2 separate regions of the Homo sapiens genome follow, and region 1 is linked to region 2. Evidence: fine-mapped expression QTL. A gene starts in region 2. The other region holds a variant in brackets. All regions are shown on one strand. Distances are between the middles of the regions.

The links. PIP is the estimated chance that this variant, and not a neighbour inherited with it, causes the effect.
Region 1: its variant is fine-mapped to the expression of MAPT-AS1 in testis (GTEx, PIP above 0.99).

The regions. Positions count from the first base shown.
Region 1 is chr17:45,845,530-45,860,638 of GRCh38, reverse strand. The region is part of intron 1 of MAPT-AS1 (MAPT antisense RNA 1); the gene reads left to right. SPPL2C (signal peptide peptidase like 2C) reads right to left here. Exons shown (of 1, transcript NM_175882.3): 1 at 13,572-15,109. The coding sequence ends at 13,678. Among named protein-coding and RNA genes, the nearest start is that of SPPL2C, 8.2 kb to the right of the region's middle. RefSeq lists enhancers at 13,868-14,851, 14,852-15,109. The variant A/G (reference allele first, on the strand shown) is at 7,805.
Region 2 is chr17:45,888,855-45,903,963 of GRCh38, reverse strand. It overlaps MAPT-AS1 (MAPT antisense RNA 1), which reads left to right and starts at 8,451. Exons shown (of 2, transcript NR_024559.1): 1 at 8,451-8,484. MAPT (microtubule associated protein tau) reads right to left here and starts at 9,410. Exons shown (of 13, transcript NM_001377265.1): 1 at 9,278-9,410. It overlaps MAPT-IT1 (MAPT intronic transcript 1), which reads right to left and starts at 8,181. Exons shown (of 1, transcript NR_024560.1): 1 at 5,166-8,181. RefSeq lists enhancers at 5,925-6,809, 7,696-8,581, 8,582-9,467.

The DNA.
Region 1 (15,109 bases), 43 kb after region 2:
GATTTGAAATGCGCAAAGGTGCGGAGGAGGTCACATATCAGTGGAGGTGGAAATTGGAGCGATGTTGCCACAAGCCAAGGAGTGCCTAAAGTCACCAGAGGTGGGGAGAGGAAACACAGGACTCCTCCCAGAGCCTTTATGGGGAGTACAGCCCTGCTGGGCACACCTAAACTTCAGACTTCTGTGCTCCAGATGGGGAGAAAAGAAATGTCTGTTGTCTTAAGCCACCTGGTTTGTGGAAATTTGTTATACCAACCGTGGGGCATGAGCGCAGGTAGGAACCAACCAGGGCACTGAAACTCATGATTCTTGAAAGGATCCAACCAGTCAACAGCCCCAGTTCTTCACTAGCTCACCCTCCACAATCCCCTTAGAGACCTCACCCAAAACTACTGTGGGAGATGGATTTGAGGGTCTCCATCTCCTCACTTGGTGCCCTGCGATCATTAAACTCTTTCTCCCTGTCAACGCTGCTGTCTCAGTTACTGGGTCTGTTAGCGCACAGTGGGCATACAAACCTGTTGTTCCTACAACACTTCCTACCCGTCACCCATGCTTCTGAGCTGTGCTGGCCACCAGGCAGCCATGTGGGAGCTGTGGGCAGACTGGAGAGGTGAGCTCCCAATAAAGACAAGAAGAGCAAGTGTTAGATCCATGAGAGAACAAAGGTCATTTGATGACAAGTCAAGCAGAAACCAGAAGTCCAGAAACTGAGGTCAGCCAAGACATGGCAGCAAAAATCAAAAAGGGCCCAGACTTGCCTGAGAATCCTGCCTGCCACATGTGCCTATTCTTTATTATCTATTGTTATGGCTGCTTAAGTGCTATGACAGCAGAGTTGAGGCCACCAAGTCTAAAGTATTTACCATCTAGCCCTTTAGAGGAAAAGCTTGCCAATCCCTGCTTTAGGGCAATAGTTCTCAAACTTTGGTGCCCATCTGAGTCACCTGGAGGGCTGTGAAAACAAAGGACTGGGCCCCACCCCCAGAGTTTCAGATTCAGCAGGTCTAAGATAGGGCTTCATAATCTGCATTTTTTTGTTTGTTTGTTTCTTTTGTTTTTGAGACAGAGTGTCACTCTGTTGCCAAGGCTGGAATGCAGTGGTGTGATCTTGGCTCACTGTAACCTCTGCCGCCCAGGTTCAAGTGATTCTCCTGCCTCAGCCTCCCGAGTAGCTGGGATTACAGGCACACGCCACCATGCCAGGCTGATTTTTTGTATTTTTAGTAGAGACGGGGTTTCACCATGTTGGCCAGGCTGGTCTTGAACTCCTGACCTCAGGTGATCCACCCGCCTCGCCCTCCGGAAGTGCTGGGGTTACAGGCATGCGCCGCCGCACCCGGCCCATAATCTGCATTTCTAACAAGTTGCCCAGTGATGCAGAGGCTGCTGGATCAGGGACCACTCTCGGAGAACCGCAGCTCCACAGCTGCACTTCTTACACTTTATTATTTTTGTTTTCACTTATTTATTTATTTTTTGAGACAGAGTCTCAGTCGCCCAGGGTAGAGTGCAGTGGCACAATCTCGGCTTACTACAACCTCTGCCTCCTGGGTTCAAGTGATTCTCCTGCCTCAGCCTTTTGAGTAGCTGGAATTACAGGCACGCACCACCACTCCTGGCTAATTTTTGTATTTTTAGTAGAGACAGGGTTTTGCCACGTTATCCAGGCTGGTCTCGAACTCCTGACCTCAAGTGATCCTCCTGCCTTGGCCCAAAGTGCTGGGATTACAGGGCTGAGCCACTGCACCCGGCCTGCTTCTTACACTTTAATCTGCCCATGATTCACCCAGGGATCCTGATAAAATTCAGACTCTGATCCGGGAGAAGCAATCTCCAGGAAGAACAACCTTGTGATCCAGTGGCCCCTGCCTTCCTCACCCTCCCTCTCCAGCCACAGCTGATTGGACCTGGGGTGGGCACCTGAGTCAGGGACCCATGGGCTCACCCACAGTCAGTGACAGGATGCCAAACAAATAGGGTCCCTAGAGAGTGTGGAAGCCAGGTAGATTCTCTCGAGAGAGTCTGAAATGTGGCTGCATAGACACCGTTGCCTGTTGTTGGTGACCCCTGGGCTGAGAGGCAATGACGTGGAGTTGGGGGCCAGTGGCATGACGAGACAAGGGCAAAATGGGTGAGCAGAGGCAGCCAGCCCAGGGAGGGGAGAAGAGGAAGTGGAGGCCCAGAGATTATGAAGCTCGGCGAGGCAGAAAGCTTTCTAATTCCCAGTTCCCATGAGCCCTGACTGGGCTGTTTGCCCTTCTGTTCTGAGAAATTCCTGTGTCCCTTCAAATATGCTTCTCTTTTGGCTTAAGCTACTTTGAGCAGTTTCTTATTCTTCAAAGCCGAAAGAGTCTTAAAGAGAATGCATCCATGACCCTCTCCCGCCACTCTCACATCTTGTTTATGTTCATCTCCAGGACCTTGGACAGGGCCCAGCACAGGGGCCCTGGAATGTGGACTGTCTCAGTGGATTCTTGTTTATAGGAATTAGAGGAAGGTGGAAGAAGCTCATTCCAGGTGAGCAGAGGCACGGAGCAAGGGTGAGCGTGTGAGAAGAGCCATGTGAACAGGATGTATAGGGGCCAGTGGAGGGAAGGCCAGTCAGGAGGGAAGGCTGGATGCAGATGGCCTTAAACACCAGGCTGAGGAGTTGGGGTTGGTTTGACAAATGGTAGGGAGGTATCAGAAGTCCTGCAGCTGGATGGACATGACAAAGAACAGTTGTGCCCTTTTCTTTAACAAGGATTCAGATGGCCTGGGTGACAGATGACATCTTGGGACTGAAATGAACAAATAATAAACCTATGCATGGAACTCTTACAAGAAAACATCAGGCAAAAGCTTACCAACATCGAATTTGGCAATGATTTCTTAGATATGACACCAAAGGCACAGACAACAGACTTCATAAAAAAGAAAAACTAGACTTCATAAAAGTTAAAAAAATTTTGTTAATCCTAAGACACTATCAACAGAGTAAAAAGGCAACCCACAGTATGGAGGAAAATATTTGCAAATTATATATCTGATAAAGGATTAATATTTAGAATATATAGAGAACTTCTAAAACTCAACAACTAAAAGACAAACAACCTGATTCAAAAAAGGACAAAGGTTTTGAAAATACATTTCTCCATTTAAAAAGACAAATGGCCAATAAGCACATGGAAAAATGAGCATTAGAAAAATGCCAATCAAAACTATAATGAGATATTACCTCATATCTATTAAGAAGACTGCTATTAAAAAAAAAAAACAAAAAAACAATACAAAAAAACCCCAGAAAATTGGCTGGACATGGTGGCTTATGCCTATAATCCCAGCAGTTTTGGAGGCTGAGGGAGATGGATCACCTGAGGTCAGGAGTTTGAGACCAGCCTGGCCAACATGGTGAAACCTTGTCTCTACTAAAAACACAAAAATTAGCCAGGCGTGGTGGTGCACACCTGTAACCACAACTACTTGGGAGGCTGAGGCAGGAGAATGGCTTGGACCCAGGAGGTGGAAGTTGCATGAGCCGAGATCGTGCCACTGTACTCTAACCTGGGCGACAAGAGCGAAACTCTGTCTCAAAACAAACAAACAAACAAACAACAACAACAAAAACCCAAAACCAGAAAATAGGTATTGATGAAGATGTAGAGAAATTGGAACACATGTGCACTATTGGTGGGAATGTAAAATGCTATAGTCTCTATGGAAACAGTATGGCAATCTCTTAAAAAATTAAACAGAGGCTGGGCACCGTGGCTTACACCTGTAATCCCAGCACTTTGAGAGGCTGAGGCAGGAGGATCGATTGAGCTCAGGAGCTCACAACCAGCCTGAGCAACATAGTGAGACCGCATCTCCACTAAAAAAAAAAAAAAAAAAAATTAGCCATGCATAGTGGTGTGCACCTGTAGTTCCAGCTACTTGGGGGACTGAAGTGGGAGGATTGCTTGAGCCCAGGAAGTCAAGGCTACAGTGAGCAGTGATCGTGCCACTGCACTCCAGCCTGGATTACTGAGCAAGACCCTGTCTCAAACAAACAAACAAACAAACACCATAAAGCCAGGGGCTCATGCCTGTAATCCCCGCTACTTGGGAGGTTGAGGGAGGATTGCTTGAGCCCAGGAGTTCGAGACCACCCTGAGCAATGCAGCAAGACCCCATTCCCAATAAATACATACATACATACATACATACATAAATAAATACATACATACATACATAAACAAAAAATTGAACATAGAATTACCATGTGATTCAGAAATTGCACTTCTGGGTATATAACCCAAAGAACTAAAAACAGGGCCTCAGAGATATTGAAAGTAATGGCAAAAACCACAATAAATTTTGCACTATCTAATATTTGCACACCAATGTTTATAGTAACCCAAGTTTCCACCAACAGAGGAATGAATGGCTAGGCAAAATGTGGTGCATACACACAGTGAATGTTACTCATCCTTAAAAAGGAAAGGAATCCTGCAGTATGCTGCCACATGGATGAGCCTTAAGGCCATTATGCTAAATGAAATGAGTCAGTCACAAAAAGACAAATTCTGTGTGATTCCACTTATATGAGGCACTTAGGGTAGTCAAAATCATAGAGACAGGAAGTAGAATGGTGGTTGCCAGAGGCTGGGGAGGAAGGCATGAGAGTTATTGTTTGTGGGTATGGAATTTCGTTTGACAAGATGAAGAGTTCTAGAAATGGATGGTGGTGCTAGTTGCACAACATTGTAAGTGTATTCAATAATATTGCTGAGCTGTACACTTTGATAAATTTTGTTATGTGTATTTTACCACAATTAAAAAAATAAAAACAAAACCAAACCCTTATGCGTGGGGAAAACAAATGACTGGATGGAAATAAAACAAAAGCTTATAGTAATGTGGATTTTTTTTTCTACTTTCCTGTGCTTTCCAATTTTCCTCTAGAGTGCAATCAATAACAGTGGAAAGAAGTCCCTGGAGCCCAGTGCAGTGGCTTGAACTGAGAATGCACTCACTGGCTGTTGCAGCCAAGACTCCAGTTCTCGCCTCTCTTTCCCTGACTCCCCTGTGCCCACCTTTCCCCTGCAGGAAAGTATACCCGGCGGGCCAGGGGGCTTTTGTGGTTGGGTTATGTCTTCATCTTGTCTGCTCTGTGAGCCATTTACTTCTCAGGCACAGCTCTGGGCGCAAGGGCAGCCTGTGCCACAGATGTCTGTTGAACCCTGGATTCGCGTCTGTGGCTGCTGTATAGATGATCACACGCCTGATGGCTTCAAACGACAGAAATATACCCTCTCACGGCTCTGGGGGCCAGAAGTCTGGAATCAGGATCATTGGGCTGAAATCAAGGGGTCAGGGCTGTGTTCCCTCTGGAAGCTCTAGGGGGAATTCATTCCTTACCCCTTCCAGCTCGTGCTGGCTGCTGGCAGTCCTTGGCTTGTGGCCACATCACTCCAATCTGTCTCCATCACCACATTGCCTTCTCCACTTCCATGTGTGTAATCCTGCTGTCTCCTCTGTCTCTCTCTCTAGCTCTTTTTTTTTTTTTTTTTGAGACAGAGCTTCGCTCTGTTGCCCAGGCTGGAGTGCAGTGGCGCAATCTCGGCTCGCTGCAACCTCCACCTCCCGGGTTCAAGCAGTTCTCCTACCTCAGCCTCCCAAGCAGCTGGGATTACAGGCACCCACCACCATGCTCGGTTAATTTTTGTATTTTTAGTAGAGACAGGGTTACACCATGTTGTCCAAGCTGGTCTCGAACTCCTGACCTCAGGTGATCCACTTGCCTCGGCTTTCCAAAGTGCTGGGATTACAAGCATAAGCCACTGCACCCAGTCCTCTCTCTCTCTTTTTTTTTTTTATTGAGATGGAGTCTCACTCCGTCACCAAGGCCGGAGTGCGGTGGTGCAATCTCCCCTCACTGCAACCTCCGCCTCTGGGATTCAAGCTTTCTCTCCTGCCTCAGCCTCCCAAGTAGCTGGGATTACAGACATGTGCCACCATGCCTGGCTAATTTTTGTGTTTTTAATAGAGACAGGGTTTCGCTGTGTTGGCCAGTCTGGTCTCAAACTCCTGACCTCAATTGATCCACCTGCCTTGGGCTCCAAAGTGCTGGGATTACAGGCGTGAGCCACTGCGCCCAGCTTCTCCTCTGTCTCTGTCTCTCTCTCTCTCCCTCTCTCTCTCATAAGGGCCCATGTGCTTGCGTTTAGGGCCCGCTAGGACGATAGAGGATTATCTCCCCATCTCAGGATCCTTCGCTTAGTCACTTCCGCAAAGTCCTTTCTCCTTTGCTCCCTTTCATGGAAGGTAATGATCACAGGTTCCAAATTTTTGGGGGAGGACATTATTCAATGTGTCACAACTGGCTTTAAGGATTAAGCAAGGTAGGTGGAGACCAGACTCCCTTGGCTCATGCTCTGGGGCTGTCCCGGGGGATAGCCGGGAAGAGAACCTGGGCTGTGATGGGTGAGGGTTCTCAGGTGTGGCCCCTCCTGCCTGAGTTCACTACAGTGTCTGGGTCAAGTCAGGAACTGCAGGCAGGGCCAAGCCTGGGTCCAGGCTGGACGAGGGACTGAGGGTTTTGCTCAGAGTTCTTTTCTCTCTGGACCCAGGGGCCTCCTGCTTTAAGAAGACCCAGTATGTGGGGGAATTTGGGGGCTTCATGAAGCAGCCTCTGAAAGGCAAACCAGAAAGCGTCTCCTGTTTACGAAGGGTTTCTGCATTAGTTTCCAGGTTCTCGGTTGCCTTGGGCTTGTCACTGGGTCTGCTGTCTGACCTTGGGCAGGCTGCTTTCCCTCTCTGTCCTCAGTTCTGGATGATCACTGGAGGCTCTGCCAACACCATTATTCAGACCTCACTGCAATCCCCCAAACCCCACCAATCTTTGCTGCCATTCAAGTCTTTGGGAGCCTGGGGAATACTACTTAAAGGCATTTCTCAGAACAAGGTCTCAGGTCAGGCTCAGTGGCTCACACCTGTAATCCCAACACTTTGGGAGGCCAAGGCGGGAGGATTGTTTGAGCCTAGGAGACCAGTCTGGGCAACATGGCAAAACCCGATCTCTACAAAAAATACACAAAGATTAGCAGGGCATGGTGGCGCATGCCTGTAGTTCCAGCTACTGGGGAGGCTGAGGTGGGAGGATCACCTGAGCCTGGAAGGTTGAGGCTGCAGTGGGCTGTGATCATGCCACTGCACACCAGCCTTGGTGACAGAGCAAGATCCTGTCTCAAAAAACAAACCAAACCAAGCCAAACCAAAACAAAAACAAAAACTCAGAACGTCTCAGATTTTAGCAGCCCAAGGTTCTCTCAGCAGCAGCCCCAGCTGTCTGCTTCCCTTCCAGGTCCCGTTCCAGGGGCAAGGACTGGGTCTGGACCTGGGGGTGGGGGTGGGGAGGGGCCATATGGGGAGTCTCCTCATCTTGCGTACAAATAGTCCAGGAACCGGGGGGCCTGAGGACACTTATTCATGGTGGTCTGATTCTATGGGGTGGGGTAAGTGTCAGGGCATGGACCGTCTTTAGGCATTAAGGACATTCAGTGATGCTGTTTTGGGCTATTTCATTCAATAAAATATCAAAATAACCTCCTCCAGGGCACCTCACCCTTCTAACAACCCAGATTCTAAAGCGTTAACCTTGAGCCCAATAGGGGCTTCAGAACTCTGCTGATTGCTAGTTTATTAAACATATTTTAAATATCATTACTGATTATAATTATCCCCAAATTCCATGAGCCCCTGCTTGCTCTTATCTTCCTGGCCAGTAGGTGGCAGCACAGGAGCATTCAAGGTTCAGGGTTGCAGGAAAAAAGGCGCA[A/G]AACGTTGGTGGTTCAGTTAAACTGCAGGACCCAGTACGTGGGGGAATTTGGGAAACCTTTTCTTGGCTCTGCGGTGGTGCCCTGCTTACCACCAGGCACCCACCCACACACCACATCCCAGTGAGCGTGGGCAGGGGAGACCAAGGGAAGAGGATGACTCCACTTCCGGGAGCTCATTTGGGGAAGACGGCATTTGGGGGTATGTCAGGTGCTGTCCTGGAAAGTTTTTCCCCAAACCTGGGTCACACGTAATGAGATAATGCATTTATCTGCCCTGCTGTAAGTGCTTAGCCAGTGTTAGCTGTTCATACACATACTTCACTTCATTTAATCCTTACAACGAACCATTAGGTGAGTCTTAGCAGCCCATTTTACAGATGAGAAAATTGAAGCTCAGAGGGCTGGCTTCTGTTGTCCAGCATCACATGACAAGAGAAAGCAATGTGGGGCTTTGAACCCAGGTCTCAAAGTCCAGCTGTGTTCTCCTTCTAGCTGGCAAGCGGATTGATGCTGAACCTTTATCAAGCAACACACACAGATACTTCTCAAGGAGAATGTGGGGCTATACCTCCCAGGGCACAGGAGTGGGTAGACCCAGAGTTTTCCTGGGGGAGGTGTGATTTCAGAGGAACAAAATCAGAGACCAGGGTGTGTGGAGGGAGGGGCTGTTGAGGATGAGAGCTGGTCCCAGCTGCTGGGCTGGGAGGCAGGAGACCAGACTTGCATTTCGTTTCTGCTGTCCCATTGCTGTGTGACCTTGGGCAGGTCCTGGCCCTCTCTGGGCTTTCCTTTCCTCATCTGTGGATGAGATCATCTCACAGGTCCTTGCTGGTCCCCACTGTCCCAGAAATCCAGAAGCTCCAGTACTAAACCCTCTCATGAACAAAAGAAAACCAAGCCCATGCTCATAAAGCTGGTGCTGGGATTACCAAGGTCACAGACAGAAATGCCAGTTGGCCTGTGTAAAACAGCTCGACCCTGAGGCTGGGCCACCTGGGGCCCTGGGGGTGGCCTTGAGGAGGCTATTCCTGCCCTGGTCTCATCTGAGGGTTCACCTATCACAGGTGAGGCTGTCCAGGAAGCAGGTGCTGTGGTGGTTAGTGGTGGAGCCAGGAGGAAGCAGCTTGCAGCACGGGGAGCCGGCAGCCTGGGATGCAGCCCTGTGCTGCCTCTGCCAGCCCATGGGATCAAAGCAAAGACCACTCTGGGTGGAGACAGCCAGGGCCTGGGCCCCTGTCTTGCTCAGCCAGTAACCGGCCCTTTGTGCCCCCTCCCCTGAAGAGCACGAGTGAGCCGGGCTAGAAAGCTGAGGTGCCCCCAGGAGGCTGTCCTCGAACCACACTCCTCAGAGCAGCTGGGCAGCGAGTTCTGTCTTGAAGGGGGATCTGTTCCACCAGGAAAGGGGTAGGCCTGCAGGGAGGGACCTTGACCACCCTGTCCTTTGGGATGGGAAATCCAGGGATCAGCACCCCCACTCCTGTAAGCCCAGGAAAGGCCTGGTGGGGAAAGGCTGGATCTGTAGGGAACCACACGCAGCAGGTCAGAGCCCAGAGGTGTGTGTGTGTGTGTGCACGTGTTGGGTGTGAACAGGTGTGCACGGGGCATGTGCATGTGTTCAGTACAGGTATATGTGTGTGGATGTGCGCATGGGTGTATATGTGTGCAGGTGTGGGGTGTGGGGGTGTGTGAAGTGTGCAGCATGGGTATGTGCCCATGTGTATATGTATGTATGCAAATGTGTGTGCATGCGTGTGTGTATATGCCCATGCGCAGTATCTTGTGTCCCTCTGGCATTCAGGCAGGGGCTTCCAGCTTTGGGCACCGCTGGCAGGTGGCAGCGTGGTCTGGACACCTGGAGTTGGCCCTGTCCTCTGGGAAGAGGACTGGCAGAGTAAGAGGAGGCCTCTGGGCAGGAGTAGGGACATTGGGCCATCAGAGGGCACAGCAGGGGCAGCAGGGCAAGATCTAGGAGACTTGACTCTGTGCCGGGCACTGGGCTCAGCTCCTCACCCATATGGCTTATTACTTACCACAACCCCTGGGGCAGGAGGTGTTATTACGCCCACTTTATGGTAAGGAGACTTTTGCATCCTCAAAGTCACACAGCTAGTAAGGGGGACATTCATCCAGCCAGTGAATTCATTCAACAGATGTTTTATTGAGCACCTACTATGTGCCAGGTCCAGTGCATGATGAACAAAACAGGACAAAGTCTGCCTCAGAGGACATGCTAGAGAGTGGGGTGGGGGTTGAGAAATGTGGCGGTTAAGTGAAGATTGTTGGTTGGTAAAGTTGCTTCAATTTCTCCTGCCCCAGACCGGGATTGGCCAGGGGAGCAAGGTGGAGGTTGAGCCTCCGGGTGTGGTCAGGTGTACCCAGGGCTCAGGGAGGGGAGCCTGCAGGGCCCCCAGCTGAATGTGTATGTCAGGATGGAAGGCAGGACCTGCCTTGGGCCCCCGGCACCTTGAAGCCTTGGTCTCCCTCCTCCCCATCTCCTCCTGGCCCAGCCAAGACAAGAGGCTGAAGCCAAACTCTAAAGGTGTTCACCCTGGGGTGGGGGTGGGGGTCCCTCAAAATGGTTGATGCCTGGTCCCACCCCAGACCTGTCAACTCAGAATCGGTGGGGCCAGGAATCCAGATTTTTGGCAGGTGCCCCAATGATTCTGACCTGCAGCCGTGCTTGGGTGCCTCTTTCTAAACCCTCAAGCTGCCTCTAGACCCAGAGTCCTTGCCCAGCCCCATCTGTGAAATGGGCAGAGTTGCTGCAGAGTATTCTTGGGAGGAAGAAGAAAGGTCCTGCCCATCACCTGCCTCCAGCCCCGTCTCCACACTTGTTTCCTGAGCAGGGCAGAAGAGCTTGGAGGATGTAGGGGTGTGTGGGGGGACTCACATAGTTTTTCCAGTTCACACGTAGAAGGCAGCTGTCCCTGTGTCTTAGCTTGGGCTCCCTGGGAATGAACCTCAGGAGCATGCTGGGTGGGAGGTGCTGGGCAGTGGTCTCAGGGGAGATGCTTGCGAGGGAGTGAGGTCTGCAGGAAGGTGAGGATGAAGCTGGGCCTCGGGGCCGGTTGGCTGGGGCCCCAGTGAGCCCTCGGGAGCTCTGGAGCTGGGGTGTCCTTCATAGAGGTCCCCGACATTGGTCAGTCCTGGCTGTGGCCACACTAGGGAACCAGCAGGGGGAGGGGGTGGTGAAACTTAGGTGACTAGGACGAATTCCCAGTGAGAAGCAGAGCTGAGAGCTACCTGGGCACTGTGATGCCACTGCACCCTGGGCTGCTGTCCACCCCAGGCCTGGCCTTGGGACCCTGTGAGCACCTCAGTTCTGCTGCCCAAGCACAGTGCAGCAAGCTGGGGGTTGGGGAAGAGGGATGGAGGCAGCAGATCCAGGCCGTGTGGGCCCTCACCTCCCCATCAGGTCTGGATGCCGGGAAGGGGGAGGCCTCCTGACCCAGACCCTCCCTGAATCCCCTCTCCTTGGAGGTAGGCATTGGCCTCCCTGCAGGCCTGCGGAGCTCCAGGCCTGCATCCTCAGAGCCCTCAGACTGGATTTCTGGGAAAGAGAAGTTCCTTTATCCTGACCTCCTGCTTTGGGGGATGTGGGGGCCAGGGAGCCCAGGAGGCCTCGGCTCTGTCCAGCCCTTCCCATCGGGCCTGGCAGAGGGTGCAGCTGCCCTCGGCAGGCCCCGTGACGCAGGCCAGCAGCAGGGAGGCTGCCCAGGCTGGGGCTGAGCCAGGGCCTGCGGAGGGCCCTCTGTCCAGGCCAGATGGCCACTGCTCCGGTGGGAGGGGCTGCCAACACCTCCGCAGTGGCCTGGCCGGGTTCTCCAAGCTTCCCTTGTCTAGCGGGCCTTCAGCTGCTGTGTACCGAGAGGCTGCACTTCTTCCCTGGCAAGCGGGGCTTTGAGAGGCCCACCACCTGCACTGCCTCCCTGGGACTCTCTCCCCACTCCAGGGCCCAGCCAGGCCTGCCAAGTCTCACGTCAACACTGACCAAGGTCCTGCAGGAAGCCTGTGAGGTGGCCTGGGCAGTGGGGCCTTCCCTCATAGCATTCCCTCCTCTGCAGTTCAGGCTGGTCAACTCCTCATTCATTCATTCATTCATTCATCCATCCGTTCATTCCTCCAGCAAATACATCAAGCACCTGTAACACTCCAGGGGCTGTTCTGAGCCCTGAAATTACACAGATGAACAAGATGGGCAAGGCCCCTGCCCTTCCAAAGCTGGCCCTCTACCGGGGAAGATCGGAAAACTAAAGGTGCCTGGTCGTGTGATTGAGACAGGGATGCTTTAGGAAAGGCTGCGAAGAGGAGCAGCCAGCCAGGCCAAGTTCACGGGGCGTGGTAAGGAAGGGGCAGAAAGAGAGTTCCAAGAAGAGGAAAAAGCATGGGGGGTGTGGTGGGTCTGGCGTGTGCTTGTGGCGGTAGGGGTTTGGAGGGGTGGAAGAGGGCCGTTGGGCTGGGACCTCAAGGTCTTGTAGGAGCTGGGTTTGAGTCTGTGAGGCTTTCACTAGGGGAGCAATATAAACATAGCTCACGTGCAGGGGGCTCTTCGGACAGGCAGGGCATTGTGCCAATCACCTGACATAGGCCAACTCGTTCAAACTTCCTAAGAACCAGATGGTAGGTCCTATTATCCCATTTCACACACAAGAAAACAGAGGCACTGAATGGATAAGTCATTTGCTCAGTGAGATACTCCAAGTCAGTGGTAGGGCTGGGATTTGTGGTAGGCAGCCTGGCTGTAGAACCCTAACCACTGAACCACACCGCCTCTTGGGATACACTTTCCTCCCCTCCAAAAACACCTCCTCCAGGAAGCCTTCTCACCCCAGAGTTTGTCTGCTCTGATTAAGCAACACATCAGCACCCTACATGGCCTAAAAGCCTGTAGAGTCCTTAGGAGGTCATCTCGTCCATGCCCCTGCCTCCAGATGGAAATGGTATTATAAGTCTCATTTTGCAGATGAGACTACAGAGACCCAACGAGGCTTGAACATTACTTAGAGTCAGTGAGGGAGGCCTTGGTCTCCGGAATTCTTCCACCCTGGGCCCAACCTCTCCAACCCCTCCCGACCTCTTTGAGACAATTCTAAGTTTGTTTCTTGTCTGCCCACCCCTCCCCCTCCCCCAGCTAGACAGAGGCCTTCCCTGTGCCCACCACATGGCGATGCACATAGTAGGGGCATACTCAATGCCTGAAGATGGAATGGGTGGTGCATACAGGAACTTGCTGGGCTTGGTGCTGCTGCCTGGGATTCTTGAACAGAGACGTTTTGCAGAATGGATGTGAGCTGAGGAGTAAAGGATGCTTCGGAATCTTCTAGTGAGTCAGGGAGCCAGGCTGGAGTGTTTCTGTCTGGAGAGGGAAGGGCATCCCAGCTGGAGGGAACAGCATATGCAGAGAGAGCGGGTGGGGAGGACAAGGAGTTCTGTTTGACCTGAGCATGGAGAGAAGATGGGCAATGAGCCTAGGGTGGGTGGCAGGGATGGGATGGGGGCTGTGTGCCAGGCTAAGAAGCTGCCACTCTGGATTGGGAAGGGGTTGGGCAAGCAGGCAGAGGGGAGTAGCTGCCCAGTGAGCCCTGGATGCAAATCCCGACCTTGCCGCTTGAACTTGTGCAAGTCATAGGCCCTCTTGGAGCCTCAGTTTCCCCCCTTCATTATTTGGGGGTGGTGCCCACTCCTAAGGACCCTTCGAGCCCTGCACACTCTTATTATGTGGTTGCTGCTCTCTTGCACTCCCGACAAACAGAGAGACTCCTTGGGTAGATATGAAATCTCTTTGATACCCTGATTTCTTGTTGCCATGCATGGCTTTGCTCTGCAATGTTCCACCAGCCCTTTGAGAGGCGTGTGTCCCAGTGCCTCCAGTTCACAAGGGAGCCTGGGTCGACATGCTCTTTCTTACTTTCAAACCCTTCCTCTTGTGGAGTCCCGCCCAGGGCAGGCCAGTCTCGTGGGCCTGGGCCTGGGCATGGACATGGCCCAGCTCTGAGGGCGGGGGCATCAGGGGCATGAGTGGGATCAGCATGGCCATTGGCATCAGTGGCATCAGCTCCTCCGAGGCCCCAGGGGGGATGAAGGGCAGCTCATTAGGATCCAAGTGGGCGTCACTCCAGCCCTCGGAGCTATCACTGCGGTCCTCTGGATTGGTGGCTTCATTCTCAGATATGGTGACAATCTCAGTGGTGTCTTCTCCAGGGTTGCTGTCTAAGTCCCCTGCTCCTCGGCTGGTGCCTCTCTCAAGTGTGCTGGCTGTGTGGGCATCTGCTGCGCCCTCCTGCTTCTGCCTAGAGCCAGCTGAAGGGGCACAGCCGAGCCCACACATCTTAGCTCTGCCCTGGCCAGTCCAGAAGAGGCTGAGCTCTTGGCGGCAGGCAGCCACAGCCAGGCTGGTGAGCAGGGTGCTGGACACTAGGTAGAGCAAGGCAGGTTGGCCCATCTGCATGAGGACCATGGCCATGAATGTGACCAGCAGGCCCACAGCATAGGCCACGGTGCAGGCCACGAAGTAGATCTGACGGGAGCAGACTTGCACATCAAAGCGGCAACAGTAAGCAACCAGGAAGCCGGGGACCACAATGTCACCGAAGCCAAGGATGGAGAAGGGCTGGCTGCACAGGGTCAAGGCGGAGACTCTTAGCCGGGGCACTTTGAGTACCATGGGCAGCCTCTCATGGCTTGAAGACTCTGCAGGGCCCAAGGCAACCTGCGCCATGATGCTCTCACCGGTTTTGGTGAAGAAGGGGGTGACGAAGACAAAGAAGACATCAAAGGCCAGCAGGGCCAGCAGGAAGGAGGAGCAGTTCTTGAGAGTGGGCAGCCGCACACGGTGCAGGACGAACAGGCAGTAGGAAATGCCCAGTGTGTCCTGCAGGAGCCACGCCCAGCGGTCCTCATTGCGGTAGGCCACCCAGAAGATGATCACGGTTGCGCACAGGCTCGCCAGCAGCAGCAGAGGCAGCGGCAGAGAGGCCCAGAGGCTGTGCGGAGGCCTCTGGTATTGCCGCAGGGACAGGCGGCACACCAGGGGTGACAGGCAGCTGTAGAGGCCAATGCCAGCACCCAGGCCAAAGATCCCAATGGTGACATAGACAAAGTGGTCATAGAAGAAGTAGAGCAGCAGCATGAGCGAGCAGGACAGGGTGACCACCACGCCTGTCATGGCCGGCGTGAAGTCCACTGGGATGTCCTCATTATCTTCCTTCTGGGCTCCCTCAGCTGCTGCAGCTTCCTGCAGCTGATGGTGACCACCAGACCCCCCTCCTCTTCGGGCACGGCGCCGCTGTAGCCGGTTGGCTTCG
Region 2 (15,109 bases):
TATAATATATAATATATATTATATATAAATATATAATATATATAAATATATAATATATAAATATATATAATATATAAATATATAAATATATAATATATAATATATATAATATATAATATATAAAATATATAATATATAATATATTTATATATTATATTATATAAATATATATATTATATTTTAATATATATTATATATATAAAAAAAATATATATAAAACCAAAGAGATTCCTTTTTTTTTTTTTTTTTGAGAAGAAGTCTAGCTCTGTCGCCCAGGCTAGAGTGCAGTGGTGCGATCTCGGCTCACTGCAACCTCCACCTCCCGGGTTCACGCCATTCCCCTGCCTCAGCCTCTCGAGTAGCTGGGACTACAGGCGCCCGCCACCACGCCCGGCTAATTTTTTGTATTTTTAGTAGAGACGGGGTTTCACAAAGCCAGGATGGTCTCAATCTCCTAACCTCATGATCTGCCCGCCTCGGCCTCCCAAAGTGCTGGGATTACAGGCGTGAGCCACCGCGCCCAGACTGCCTGATGTTGCCCTGATTAATTACCCAAGAAGTCTCTTTTTGGGGGACAGGCCATGGGAGGGGGATGAGGCAAGACAATAGTTTGGTGCCACTGTTCAATTAAGAACAACTGGAAACAGGTACCACTGAAATGACCTGCAAATCAATGGCAGAACTGGATCCGATCCAGGACAACTCTGTTGACACATGATTTAGAACGCTGGCTCCAATTCAGGAGGAGGAGCTGTCCTTTACGCTGGGGGAGGAGCACCGTCCCACGGTTCCATGAATTTGTCCTTCCCAGCACTTCGTTCTTGGCATTCTGTGGCGTCTGTAGAGCACATGACAAGCAATTACAGAGCCAGGGGTCTTCTAATATCCTTGCTATCCCAGGGAGGAGGACACAAGCATGAAAGTGCATCCCTGGACTTTTTGTGGTGAAACTGCAGACTTAGATCCCAAGATAACATCACCAGCCTTCTCAGTAAAACAGAAAACTGGGCCATAGGCTGGAAGGAAAACCAGCAGCTGGGACTAGAGATAATTATGTCCCTCTTCTCTTTGATGCCTGGATTTAGCAGTAGGGTGGACGGGGCCAAAGGAGAGGAATGAATGAAACATTATTATCAATTGCTTCAGATTTAATTCTCACTTGCTGATTTAAAACTGTTTTTAGTGTTGGACATTGATCTAAGACTCTTTCCTCAGGGGAGTTAATATAGCAAAGGGAATTTAAACTTATTTTCAGTCTGTTGAGGAGGATTTTACCCTCTTAAGTTGGGATTCTATGTGAATGACTTCAAAGTGCTGTGCTAGTCCTGGCAGACAGACAGAAGATGGGCGGGGAGAATGCCCACCTTTTACTAATTTATAAGTTTCCCCAGTAGGTGTTCTTCTGATACCCTGTAAGAATAAGACATGAAGGTCTGTAAACATGCAAGGCTGGGGTCCACACAGCCTGATCTGCAGTCAGGACTGCCTCTTATCACAGCCAAGCACTTACTAAAGGTCATCTGTGCCCATTCAAAATCTTGTATGTACACCAGACTTGCTATAATAATCACATATCCTAAATAAGGTGCAAGCTGGCCGGGCGCGGTGGCTCACACCTGTAATCCCAGCACTTTGGGAGGCCGAGGTGGGTGGATCACTTGGGTCAGAAGTTCGGGACCAGCCTGGCCAACATGGCGATACCCCATCCCTACAAAAATACAAAAATCAGCCGAGCATTATGGTGTGTACCTGTAGTCCCGGCTACGGCGGAGGCTGAGGCGGAATTGCTTGAACCCAGGAGGTGGAGGTCGCAGTGAGCCAAGATCGCGCCATTGCACTTAAGCCTGGGCGATAGAGCGAGACTCCGTCTCAAAAAAAGATTAAAAAATAAGGTGCAAGCTGATGGAGTAAAAGTGCTGAGGAATAAGCTCTTCAAATCATTCAATGATTTTAAGAAAATTTAGTTGAATGTTTTGGAAAGACTTCATAAAGGTGAGTAATATTTACTATCAAATGGGATGGTAAAGACCATGAAAAAAAAAAAAAAAAGTAAAATCCCTGAAGGATTCTGCATTCAGATGACTCCACAATGTAAACCCAAAATCCAAACTGAAATCGGAGGACCCAGACAGTGCATTATTAATGTGGCATAGGCAAAACAGACAAGAAATTTCAACTGGCTGATCCAGACACCAAGAGAAGACCTGAGCCCTGTGTCAAAAGATGGGTGAACAAATTCACATTTATATAGTTTCGGTTAAAGTAAAATCTTGGAAATCTATGTGTATCATTTAAATGATTTTCTGATATAATGACTTTTTAAAACTGATATATTGTTACTTAGTCTTGATTTAAGCGATAAGAAGGCTTCTTAGGCCGAATTTATTAATTCATAAATGACTATACTTATTGGATACATGGAATTCCTAAGATTCAGTACACCACAAGTTTGCTTTATTTAATCCTTTTCTACTCTACTCTCAACCAACCACCCTGAAATCTGTTTGCCAGTTTACCAATGTCAGCACTCTGTTGAATTACTTCATTTGTAAAATCTCTTCTTTACCTCCTTCGCCTTCCCTGACTGCCATTACTTTCTCGATCAGCCCTCACTTTTTATTCAACGAGTAAACTGGAAAGATCTCTGAACCCGATGTACTAAGCCAGGTCACCCTGCCCGGGATGGCTGGCGGGAAGGCAGGTCAGTTTGGGCTGGTGGAGAGCATGCAGTTTATTCCTGGCATGGAGTGGATTTCAGGAAGAAGATGAGGCAGGGACAGCAGATGACAAATCTCCGCTTGCCTGTGGCAAGAGTTCTGTGTGTACATTTAAACATGGGTGTGTGCAATTTTCAGAGGATCCACTTCTGCCCAGTTTGGTGCAGGGGAGCTGGGTAGTTGCCGACTTTTCCTATCTTGATCCCTACTCAGTGTAACAATTTATCTGTACAACTGATTCCATCACCAGGATCTTTAGACCCCTCTGGTCATTCAGCCAATCACAAGCACTCATCCACAGGACACCGCCGATGATGCCATTTACTGAGCAGTTACTATGTGCTTGGCCCTAGTGAGTACCGGGTTAGCTTGTGTGAACCCCATGGCAACCCGTGAGACAGGTACCATCATACTCCAAGTTGTGGATGACAAAAAACTCTCCAAGCAGCTAAACAATATGGCTTAGGTCTCACAGTGAGCAGGGAGCTGGGATTTGTGCCCAGGAGGCCCGATCAGAGCCTACCTCCTTAACCATTAGGCCAAACTGCCTCCACATGCAGAACACTGCCCTGCACTGGGGACCTGGGGGAGGGTAACAGTGTCTGCCCTTGAGCTGCTCCCAAACCTTCCTTGAATAGCCTTGGCACAAAATGCATTTCTTGGGGACTCGCTGACATGGTGTTTGGATTTCTATCGGGTCCCTGATTGGGCTCAGCATGGAGCCTGATGAAATATGAAAAAAGCAAAGAAAATTAAGGGACTATACATGGAAGTTGTTCGAGTTTGTATTTTGCTGAAGCCCATTCTATCTGCATGCTTACAGAAAGTTTCCTAACTGGAGAACCCAGAAAGCTCAAAACCTGTCTCAAATTCCTCCTCACACTCAGTTGGGAGCCATCTGGGCAGGCAGGGAACCTGGCAGAGGTGGCAGGAGCATGGCACCTGGAGACAGGAAAGGAATTCTTGGACAGCAAACTCTTTGGCAAGGCAACAGGGGCGAGACAGAGGATTCTCAGGTAGCCCCAAGGTACCACAGTATAATGGAATACTTATTGCAAAGCCTGGGCCCCAGGAAGTGAGAAAAGCCTCCCAGGCCCATCTTTGCCAAAAGATTCTTACAAGAGGACTTGCCTATGCCCACCCAACTCAACCCACACCCACAATCTCAGAGCAGGCCTCATCAGTGGGCGCCAACGCTTTCACCTTGCCGAGGTACAGAACCTAAGCTGGGGATCTGATGTCCCTAAACCTCAGAGACTTGACCTTGGCCACACTGAATCTACGTCTTGATCCCCCAGTCTTGATTTCCAGCCTTCCCTGGGTCAATCAAACCAGCTGCCCCGTCATATGGCAGAGCAGTCCAGAAACCCTGGATTGGGGGAAGAGGTTTAAGGACCTTAGGAAGAGATATTTGCTCTTTGTTTTATAAACAGAGCACCAATGTAGAGTGAAATGCCTTGCTCTCTGTGTCGGGGCCAGATAAGAAATTGAGAGCTTTAACTCCACATCTCCCTAACCTTATTCTGGGTCATGCTCCGATTACAGACTCTTGTAAAAATTCATTTGTGAGACAGTGGTTTTGGAATCAATATTCTACTGGGTCAATGTTATAGATCATATCTGGGTTCCCAGACTAGTCCACAATGGCCAAGTAAACCCACATGTGGCTGAGAGGGGAGGGAACTAGTGTCAGGCAACCAGCTCCACCACCCACTGGCTCTGTGACCTTTAGCAAGTTACTAACCCTCTCTGTGCTTCAGTTTCCCCATCACGGAGATAATAACAGCACCTGCTACATAGCGGAAGTGTTGTGAGGATTAAATGAGATAATCTTAGCAAGCACTTAGAATAGGGCCTCCTAAAAGACACTCAATGAATGTAATTAAGATAGCAGTGCCAGTGTCAACCCCAGCAGTGGTGACATTGGGACTGGGTCATATTTTGATGTAGGAGACTGTCCTGTGCCTTCCTTGTAGGATGTTTAACAGCATTCCTGGCCTCTACCCACAAGATGTCAGTAGCACCCTCCCCGAGTTGTGAAAACAAAAACATCTCTCTAGACATCTCAGTGGCCCCCAGTTGAGAACCATGGTTTTACAGGAAAACAGCTGAGAGTCCCTGCTGGAACATGAGGACTCCTCTCCCTGCTGCAGCCCAGCTGGTGAGGCTGGGGTCTTCTCTTCCCGTCACCTGCTGAGGTGCCCCCCAAACGCCAGCTCCATGTCACTAGTGGAAGCACCTAACTCCTGGGCATGGCAAGTTAGGAGTGGCCAGGGGGGTGTTTCTGGGAGTGTGAGGGGGCTTTGGGGGTCTCTGAACACGGTGATGAGGAAAGTGGTGGTGGAGGAAAGAGCAGAGTCAAACGCAGTTTCCCACCTGCTTCCCACTGTATTTCCCCATTTATCCTTCATGGATAAAATCCATTTGGTATGGACCGAATACCTCTTGTATGTCTAGCACTGTATTAGGCCCCTACGGCTGTTTTTATTTGTTTTTGAGTGATTCTTTTTCAAGGAGGGAGTAAGGAAGATGCTAAATAAATACATCAATAGAAGGCAAGGTCCAGTTGGAAAATTATCACATGTCCAATTGGAAAAATAACACGTGTTCGTACATATAGCCACAGAGCTACTGAAACCACACACATAAATGCTGAGGGAAAGTGGAATAAAACAGTTTCTTTAAATTTTCAACAAATGGACTGTAACAACAGATGTTAAAAAGGCAGAAGGAAAACCACAATCTTATCCCATCTCCAGGCTGGCACCGACCTCCAAGGGCATGAGGGTCAAAGGGCACGTTTAATAGAAAGGCCACTTTTTCCAACCGGAATAAATCTAACCTTTCCTCAATCAAAGCGATTCTAAGTTTTCTAACAATTTATGGGCAGTATCCATTTCTTTTGTTCCTGTCGGAGGAGCAATGCCTGATATTAGAAACCACTTAAAAGTCACGCCCTTCCAGCAGGAACAGTCATGGACTGTCACTCATCCAAAACCCAGCAAAGCCAACAAGCCCCTTCCCCAAATCGTCCAAAGGTGAACCCAAGAGCCAAGCCAGGTTATTGCTATATAAACATCTGTTAGAGAAGCAAACTTGGCCAAGGAATGTATGAGCTTCAAGAGTCACTCCGGACCTGCGTAGCAGGGGTGGGGGCAGGGGATACACTTATCTGTTTATCCATTAATTTGTTTACGTAGAGGGAGGATTTGGAGATGCTTATACAGTAAATATAAGCAGCTTATACAGTAATTATAATACAATGCTTATACAGTAAATACAATGCTTATACAGTAAATATAAGCAGCCATCACAAAACACAAAATGACACCCCAGAATCAACCGCGGTAGGAAAGACATTTCCCTGTCTCCTGTAGGATGGGTCAGTTAAGGGGCCGAGGGGGATCAGATAGAACTCAAATTGGTCCTGCTGAGCCTGGAGCCTGAGCACGCAGAGGGGTGAGCTAGGCAGTCGCTGTCGGAGCCCCCATCATCCCTTCCAGCCTGGACCATTCTGAGACGGAGGTTTGGAGTTACAGGTGTGTGAGCGCCAGAGGGTGAGAGGGGTCACTCGCTCGGAATGTAAGAGCTCCCGCCTGCTGGGAATGGGGAGGAGTCGTCGATGGCCCCAGGATCCGTGCCCAGACATTTCCAGAGGCGCACCGGCTGGTTCAGCACCCCACCGTCATCCGCGCAAAAGCTGCATCCCTCGAGGTCCTGGAGGGAAGCCATTTCCTTAAAGCGCGCGCAGAGCCAGGATAGAGTTTCCTACGAAGGACCGTCCCCCTGAGGTTCCTCCATTAACAGCGCCCCCGGCCTTGCCCACCGCAGCGGCCCCACCAAAGCGCCAACACATTTCAAAATGGAGCGAAATCGCAGAAGCGCGGAGTGCGCTTTGTTCCCAGCATTGGGCTAAATGCGCTCATCCCCACCGGGCTCCCTTTCCTCCAAAGGCAGGAGGTGACATCTCTGCTCGCGAGATGGCAATACGTAGCCGTGGCCGCGGGCTCCCCTTTTCCGGGGCCACCCCGAGACCCTCGCTCCATCTGGAAGGGGAACCCCGCGCCCAGCTCTGTCTGGGGGCGAGGGAGGAGAGACGATGCTTGAATCGATCCCTGAGCCGCTCTGCAACCCCTCGCGGCGGGCCCAGCCATGCGAGGAGCCTCGCAGTACCCAGGCTCCAGCCCTCTACGCCACCGTCAAGGAGGGTCGGCCTGGTCCCGGGCGGGCAGCCAAGCCATTCCCCAGAAATTCAGATCAACCTGGGCGACCCGCGTGGAGGATTCAGCTCCTAGATGCTCTTCCGTCTCAGAAGTGCGCCCCCCGCACCAGTTTTCAGCGATAGAATTAACCAGAAAACCGTGCGTACCAGGTTCATCACAGGAGGGCGAGGCATGGATTCGTTGGCCAGGAGTTCCCCCTGCCGCCCCAGACTCGGTTTTGGGGGCGCGGTGAACTTGGACACGGGTGAAATTTATTTAAGATAAATAATATTAATCAGTACGGACATAATATTAATAAAAATACACCCAGGGCCGCCTATCTGCGTGTCTGCGGCCTCCAGGGGCCAATCAGAAACAGCCTCAGGCGCGGGGGTTCGGGGCTTCCTCCCGTGTCCTCCAGGAGGCCGACTGGGCGCGGCTCCCCCTACCCCAGGGTCCCCAATCTCCGCAGGGAAGGGGTGAGGCCAGCCCCAAGATCCCCTCTCCGGACACCTGTGGTTTCCATGGCAATCCCCCCTCTGCGCCCAGTCCAGTGGGCTCAGAAAGATGGGTGTGGCCGAAGCACCAGTAACCTTATGCCCCTTCCTCACATTCTCCGGCCAGGCGAAGCAACAGGGCGTAAAGCCGGAGAGGCCCCGCCAGGGCTCCCCACCCATCCCCGGATGGGTAGCCAGCGTCCCTCGCTGGGCAACCTGGTGTGGCGTGGCCCTCAGGACACTTGGGGTGTAGGGAGGGGCGAGATCCCTCTGCCGCCGCCCGCAGCGCGCACGGAGACTCGAATCCCATCCCTTCAGAAGCTTCCCGGCGCCGGCAGACTCCGAGACGAGGCTGCGCGCGGTCACGCCCGTTCCATGCGTGCCGGGGGTCGGGGGGTTGACTCGAGTTCATCGAACCCAGCAAGCCTCGAGATCCAACAATGGGCTCGGAAATGAGGAGCGAAAAAGGAAAGAGAGGCGCATGGGCGTAGGGGGGAGGTTGACTGAACACCCTCAGAATAAAAGCCAGAAACCAGGGCTGGGAGCGCAGATCACGTAACCTCTACAGACAAAGCAAAGAGCCCCCGAAGAAGGTGCTGGGCGAACGCCCCCAGTGCTCACGCCCGCAGCAGCAAAACGCCAAGATTTCAGCGCTGATTGTCCCCCTCCCTTTAATGCCAGGCCCCGCCCTGTCCTATGAAGCCCGGCCACCCGGTTTGGCATGGCACCGTAAAGACGTGACACGCCGAAAAAAGATGGCACCTCGCGTTCCGAGGGGGAAAAAAAGGGGGGCTGGGGGCGGGAGTGGGAGGAGGCACAGCCTATCCTCCCCCTTCCTCGCCCACCAGGGTCCACACCCACTGCCGCAGTGAGGGGCGAGCCCTGCGCGCCAGCCCCGCGCCTCCGGCAGGGAGCGCACACGCCGGGCGCCCTGCGCTCCGAGCGCTGAGAAAGAAATCCGCCCCGAGATGCACCTGCAGCCCCGCGCCCATCCGTGCGTGGCTGCGGCTGTGCGTGCCCGCGAACGGGGACCAGCGGCCGCCGAGTCCGTCCACATCGCCAGGCCAGGTGAACCCTGCCTTTGCGAGCGTGCACAGTGGGATCCGCGCACTGTTCTCAGGCACGGCGCTGCTCGCGTCTCTGTGCCAGGCGTGCGCAGGGGGAAGGGCAACTAAAGTGACAGCGCGTGGACCCCTCCCCATCTCCTCGATTTCTCCCAGCCCCCAAATGTCCCCTACGGGTTTCTGAAGGAGGAAAAGGGGAGGGGGCCGGCCCCCGCCTAAAATCAGGGGCAGTGAAGGCCCTGTCGGAATCACTGCTCGGGAGGTGCAGGGAGGGGCGTGCAGGGAGTCATCTTTTCTAGAACCCGATCCACGTCTTTCTTAGAGCTGATGGCGAACAGCGGCAGGGACAGCGGATTTCAGATTCGGTTTCGGGGGTCGTTATCGGACCCCTCCACACACACACACACACACACACACACACACACACACACACACGCCCATTGCGGCAAAAGGCTGCAGTCGAGAGTGAAGGGCAGCCCCCTCCCCCAAGTCACCGCCGCCGCGCCCCACCCTGCCGGCACAGCCTCCACCTGGGGTCTGCGCGAATCTGGTGGTGAAGACCCTCCAGCACACACACACGCGCGCACTCACGCGTGCGTGCATCCCTTGCTCAGGTCCCTTTCCAGGCCGCCCTGGCCCCAGCCCCCGAGCAGGGGAGGCAGGGAGGGGCCCTGCGGTGGCCCCGACCGATGCCCGGCGCACGAAGCCCCAGTCTGCGGAGAGGGAGGGCGAGGGGCGGCGGCGCAGGGGTGCACAGAGGCGGACGGCGAGGCAGATTTCGGAGCCGCGGCGCTTACCTGATAGTCGACAGAGGCGAGGACGGGAGAGGACAGCGGAGGAGGAGAAGGTGGCTGTGGTGGCGGCGGCAGAAGGTGGGCGGTGGCAGCGGCGCTGCTGTTGGTGCCGGAGCTGGTGGGTGGCGGTGACTGCGAGGGCGCGCGCCGGCGAAGAGGGCGCGTTCCTGAGGCCGGCGGGCGGCGCAGGCGCGAGCAGCGGGAACGCGAGCCTCCCCAGGGGAGGGGGCGGGCAGCGCGGCCTCCGCGGGAGCCTTCTCCTCCGGCCACTAGTGGGCGCGCGCGAGCGCCCTGCCGCTCGGCCGTCCGGCGTCTCCCGGCTCGTTCCTCTCGGCGCTGCCCTTTCGCGGTCCCCCTCCCGCTACGCCTCAGGCCGCGGCGCTGACCGCAGCGCGCACGCGCGTTCCGTGGCGCACGCGCTTTCTCCACCTCCTGTAGTTGGAGTCTTTGTGTCGTTGCGGGGGTGGGTGTCCTCCTTCGGGCCATGCGGGGTCGGGGCAAGGCCAGTGGCTCCGCCGCTGGGTCCGCTGCCCTTTACTTTCAGTCAGCCTGGGGCGGTGTCCTCTCCTACAGAAGTCCTGAGCGGCCTTCCACGTGGCCGGCCCTCGAGTCCGTCCGCCCCGACCCTTCGTAGTCCCGAAACCGCCCCCCTGGCTAAGGTCTCTTTCCCCCAGGCTGCTTCCTTTCTCCTTGCTTTTTTCCCACCTTTTTTGTTACTGACCAAGGTGAATCCTTTCCTTAACAAATCGGCTTAAAGCAAGCTAACTCAGTTACAATACAGTAGAACTGTACTTAAAAAAAAAGAAACGTGAATCTAACCGTTACGTCAGAAAAAAAAATCTTAAATTAGACGAATTTCAAACAGTGCTTAACACATCGCAGAGCATTTGCAGTTATTTGTATCACGTCTTTTGAAACACCTTTATGCTGTAAATAGAGCTTGAAGTCTGAATGTTTAAGGGCCAGCTAGAGATTGTCCCCTGGAAGACGCACCTCAGCCTGAAACTGACCAGTGGTCCTCATTCTGCTGGTCGCCCAGGCCCCAGGCTTCGGCCTTAGCTTGGATTTTTCATTTCCCCAACATCAAGTTTAAGCCCAAGCAGTGGGATGATTTCTATGTAGGGGGGTTTAGGGCAGCCATCTCCTCCTAGGGAGATGGGAAGTTGTCTTGAAGCTCCAATTTGCATAGCTCTTATATTCTTTTTAAAAAATCAACATATGTTATAGATTAATAGAAAAAGCAAGTAAAATGCTTTATTCACACAGTTTCTGGAACTGACCTTTTTCTCCTTTTTTTTTTTAAATGCATATTAACTTTATTTTTAAACAGAGGGGCATATACCCAAAGAAGTAGGAGTGAGAACCACCATGGGGGCTTGCTCAAAGCAATCTGCCCTAGCCTTCTGACTACAGAATGTCTCATGAGCCAATGGCCTGGAGATGGAGCTGCCCCTTGATGGTGTACACCTTAGAAAAGTCAGTGGAATTGACCTTTTTTTGGAGACAAGGTCTTGCTCAGGCTGGAGTGCAGTGGCACAATCGTAGCTCACGGCAAGCTTGAACTCCTGGGGCTCAAGCAATCTTCCCACCTCAGCCTTCTGAGTTGCTGGGACTACAGGTGGGCACCACCACACCTGGCTAACTTTTTTTTTTTTTTTTTTTTAGAGAGGAGGTCTTGCAGTGTTGCCCAGGCTGCTTTCTAACTCCCACCTCAGCCTCCCAAAGCGTTGGGATTACAGGCATGAGCCACTGCACTCAGCCTGGAATTGACTTTTTGTTGTTGTTGTTCTAACTGCCACCATCCTAGTTCAAGACCTCTATCTTGGTTCTGGACATGTAGGGACCTTAGTGATCTCCTTGCTCTCCAGTTTCTCCCTATATCAGCCCACCCTGCAACCCCTAGTTAGATCAGTATTCAGAAGTGATCATTTTATTTATTTATTTTTGGTTTTTTGTGTGTGTTTGTTTTGTTTTTTTGAGATGGAGTCTCGCTCTGTTGCCCAGGCTGGAGTGCAGTGGCACGATCTCGGCTCACTGCAACCTGTTTCCCGGGTTCAAGCGATTTTCCTGTCTCAGCCTCCCAGCTACTGGGATTACAGGCATATGCCACCACTCCCGGCTAATTTTTGTATTTTTAGTAGGACGGGATTTCACCATGTTGGCCAGGCTGGTCTCGATCTCCTGACCTCAGGTGACCCAAGCTCCTCAGCCTCCCAAAGTGCTGGGATTACAGGTGTGAGCCACCACACCTGGCCCAGATCATTTTAATTATGTCACTCTCTTGCTCAAAAATATGTAAAAGCTTCTAACTGCCTCCTAAATTAAGTTCAACCCCTTAGTTTAGCTTTCAAGTGTCCCCCCAATGCCCCAACCCCCCATCATCTGAGCCCTTGTCCTCCCATTTTCTTTCCCACCTACTCTGTAGCCAGCTGAAGTGGCTTGACTAGAACTCTTTTTCCACCTCTGTAATTCTGAGGTTTTCCTTTGCCTACAAAGGTCCTTGTTCTTTCTTCACCCACCAGTAGTCTACCTAACCTTCAAACTCTAGCTCAAATTTTACCAAAGCCTTCCCTAATCACCCCAACTGGAAGGGACATTTCCAGTCTCTAGAAGGAGTTCAGCAAAATTACTCTTCTTCTTTCTGAAAGTGGGAAGGGGGTGCAGTCAATATCCGTCTTGCAGCATTGAAATGTGGTTATTGTCCCCAATAGTGTCCCCTTTTTTTGGTGTGGGGATTATACATACTTGTCCATTACCATTTACATGATGTAGACATTCCAAATAGGCGCTTCAAGAGCATTGCAAGGTTCTACCACTTTTACTCTTCCTTTCCGCCACCAGAATGGCGTGGCTCCAGAGAGCTGTTCCTTCAGCTTAGATCTCAGGAAGGAAAAACTCGAGGAAGTACATGTCACATGAGCAAGAAATAAACATTTGGGGCTGGGCGCAGTGGCTCATGCCTGTAATCCCAGCACTTTGGGAGGCTGAGGTGGGTGGATCGCTTGAGGTCAGGAGTTCAAGGCCAGCCTGAGCAACATGGTGAAATCCCATCTCTACTAAAATCACAAAAATTAGCCAGATGTGGTGGCGCGTGCCTGTGTTCCCAGCTACTCGAGAGACTGAGGCAGGAGAATCGCTTGAACCCAGGAGGCAGAGGCTGCAGTGAGCCGAGATTGCACCATTGCACTCCAGCCTGTTACAGAGCAAGACTTGGTGTCAAAAAAAAAAAAGAAATAAGCATTTGTTGTGCAAGCCACCGAGATTTGAGGAGTTGTTACCACAGCGTCCTGTATCCTGATTGATACAGGAATTAAATGAGGTGTGTGTGTGTGTGTGTATAAAGTTTCTTACACAACATCTGACAAATAGTCATTAAACTATCATACTATTATAAATACTATACTATTATACTATTATAAATACTAGTTATTTCATTATCATCTTTGTAATAATGCTTTTGCTACACATTATTTTATTTCTATACGTAAAATAAACTGTAGCAGTCAAATCAACACTCGTCTACATTCAAATTTCACATTTTTCCCCCTCTAAGATAACAGTATAATTGAGAACTGACAGGGACCTAATGACAGTATGGTCCCCTCACACTGAATGGTCACATTTGCCTAAATTGAAATAACGTATGCTAGAAACAATCTTAAGCAGATCTGTCATTTTAACTATATGTGATGTAGAGTTGAATGTTCATTCCAGATAATTTAGTCAATGTAGGTAACTAATGGCTCACACTAATTCAGGCCAAGAAAATGCATTCCCTCTCTTTCTTCCTGTCCCTTTCTCTTGCTGAAAGAGAAATCTCATGGCCGCATATGTTATACAATCATGCCCACTTATGTAGGATCACAGAAGGCAGAATAGCAGAGAAGAAAGAAAACTGGAGAGTTGGGTCCTGATCCTAGCCATCTTGTATGACCTTAGACAAATTCATTACCTTCTCTGGGTTTGCAATTCCTTTATTTAATGGTGTTCCAGATGCGGTTAGGACTGAGATCAATGTATCTATAGAATTTGGAGGCTCTGCCACTAAATCTATTCACAAAGCAAGCTAAACTGTTGTAATAAATAGACCCCAAAACACAATGGTTCAAACCAACTCTTCGAGCAGTCTTGGGTGAGTGATCCAGGTTGGTAGCCAGCCTTCTCCGTGGAAGGTTTGGGACTCAAGCTCCTTCCATTTGCAGCCTACACCACCCCTGAGGGACTTGTTGTTTGCTTGCTTGAGGCAGGGTCATCATTTAGAGTCTCCAGTTGGGAGGAAGAGAAGGAGCTTATGGAGGAAACACACTGGCTGTCTTAGAGGCTGGAAGTGGCATCTGATCATGTTCCACTGTTAGAACTTAGTCACATGGCCATCCCTAAGCGCAAGGTATACCAATGTATGTAGGAGAGTTGTGGGCCCAGGAAGAAGAGGAGAAAGGATTTGGGTGGAACCTAGGCTGTGCCATATATACTTTTTATGTGGGGGTGGGGGGATGTGGTAAAAAGAACCTGGGAAAAGAACCTGAACTTGTCTATCATGAGATTCAGACATATGTGAATAGGCTATGATGTGGGAGGTGGGGAGAGAGGTAGAGAACTAGCAGAGAAGGAGAAAAACCAGATTTTCAATTAAATGCATGAGAGAGAAGTCATCATTGGATACTTCTGAATCAGAGAGTATTTAACCTTTTTTATATCGTGGCACCCTATGGCAATATGATAAAAGCCCTGTCTCAGAAGAATATTTTCAAATGCATAAAATAAGATCTATAAGATTATAAAGGAAACTCTTATGTACAGTTATCAAAATATTTAAATGTCTGTGATATCGTATGTGATGGACATGGAGATGGAGGTGTGCCGCCCAGATTCCCCTATAGGGAAGGACTTGTTCCAGCCACTGGGAGTGCTGTTGGCAGACAGGCTTCAGCCCTCTGTCCCTTCAGGGATTGTCTCGGCTGCAAGAGTCACCTTGTTGCAGGGAGACCACGTTGAGTGACTGACAGAGGTGGGGGTATAAAGACCCAGTCATGTTGGCCCCACACTGGGAAAGTCTGATGGCCCTATTTAACTCCAGAGCTCCCCATGCCAGCCAGGCAGTTGTTGGGTTGAATCACAACTCAACTTCCTCCTCTGCTCAGTCCTTCCTTCCCCACTGCCTCTGGTATTAATTGTGCATTCTAATAAACATTCTGGGCTGGGTGTGGTGGCTCACGCCTGTAATCCCAGCACTTTGGGAGGCAGAGGTAGGTGGATCACTGGAGGTCAGGAGTTTGGGAGCAGCCTAGCCAACATGGTAAAACCCCATTTCTACTAAAAACACAAAAATTAGCTGGGTGTGGTGGCGCACACTTGTAGTCCCAGCTACTCAGGAGGTGGAGGCAGGGGAATCACTTAAACCCAGGAGGTGGAGGTTGCAGGGAGCTGAGATCATGCCACTGCACTTCTACCTGGGCAACAGAGTGAGACTCCGTCTCAAAAAAGCCCAAACACACACACAAACAACAACAGCAACAACAACAAAAACAAAACAACATTCTGTATCCTGAACTCTCTGCCTCTTGGAGAACTCAACCCAGAATAGTTGGTTGTTAGGAGTGGTCTAGGAAAGCAGATGATAAGGTGAGTTTTAGAGCTGGATCACTTGCTCCCTGGCTGTCAGTGAGGACCTTATCACTTGTAGTAGTTGGAGCACAGATAGTCCCTGACACAAAGTGGCAGTCCAATTGTTAAAGTGGTAAATTGAGATGGTATGCTGGTGGAAGAAAGTGCACTAGCCAGTGTGATATATCAGATGTTTGAGAAACATATGGAAAATAGTAGCTGAAGACAGCA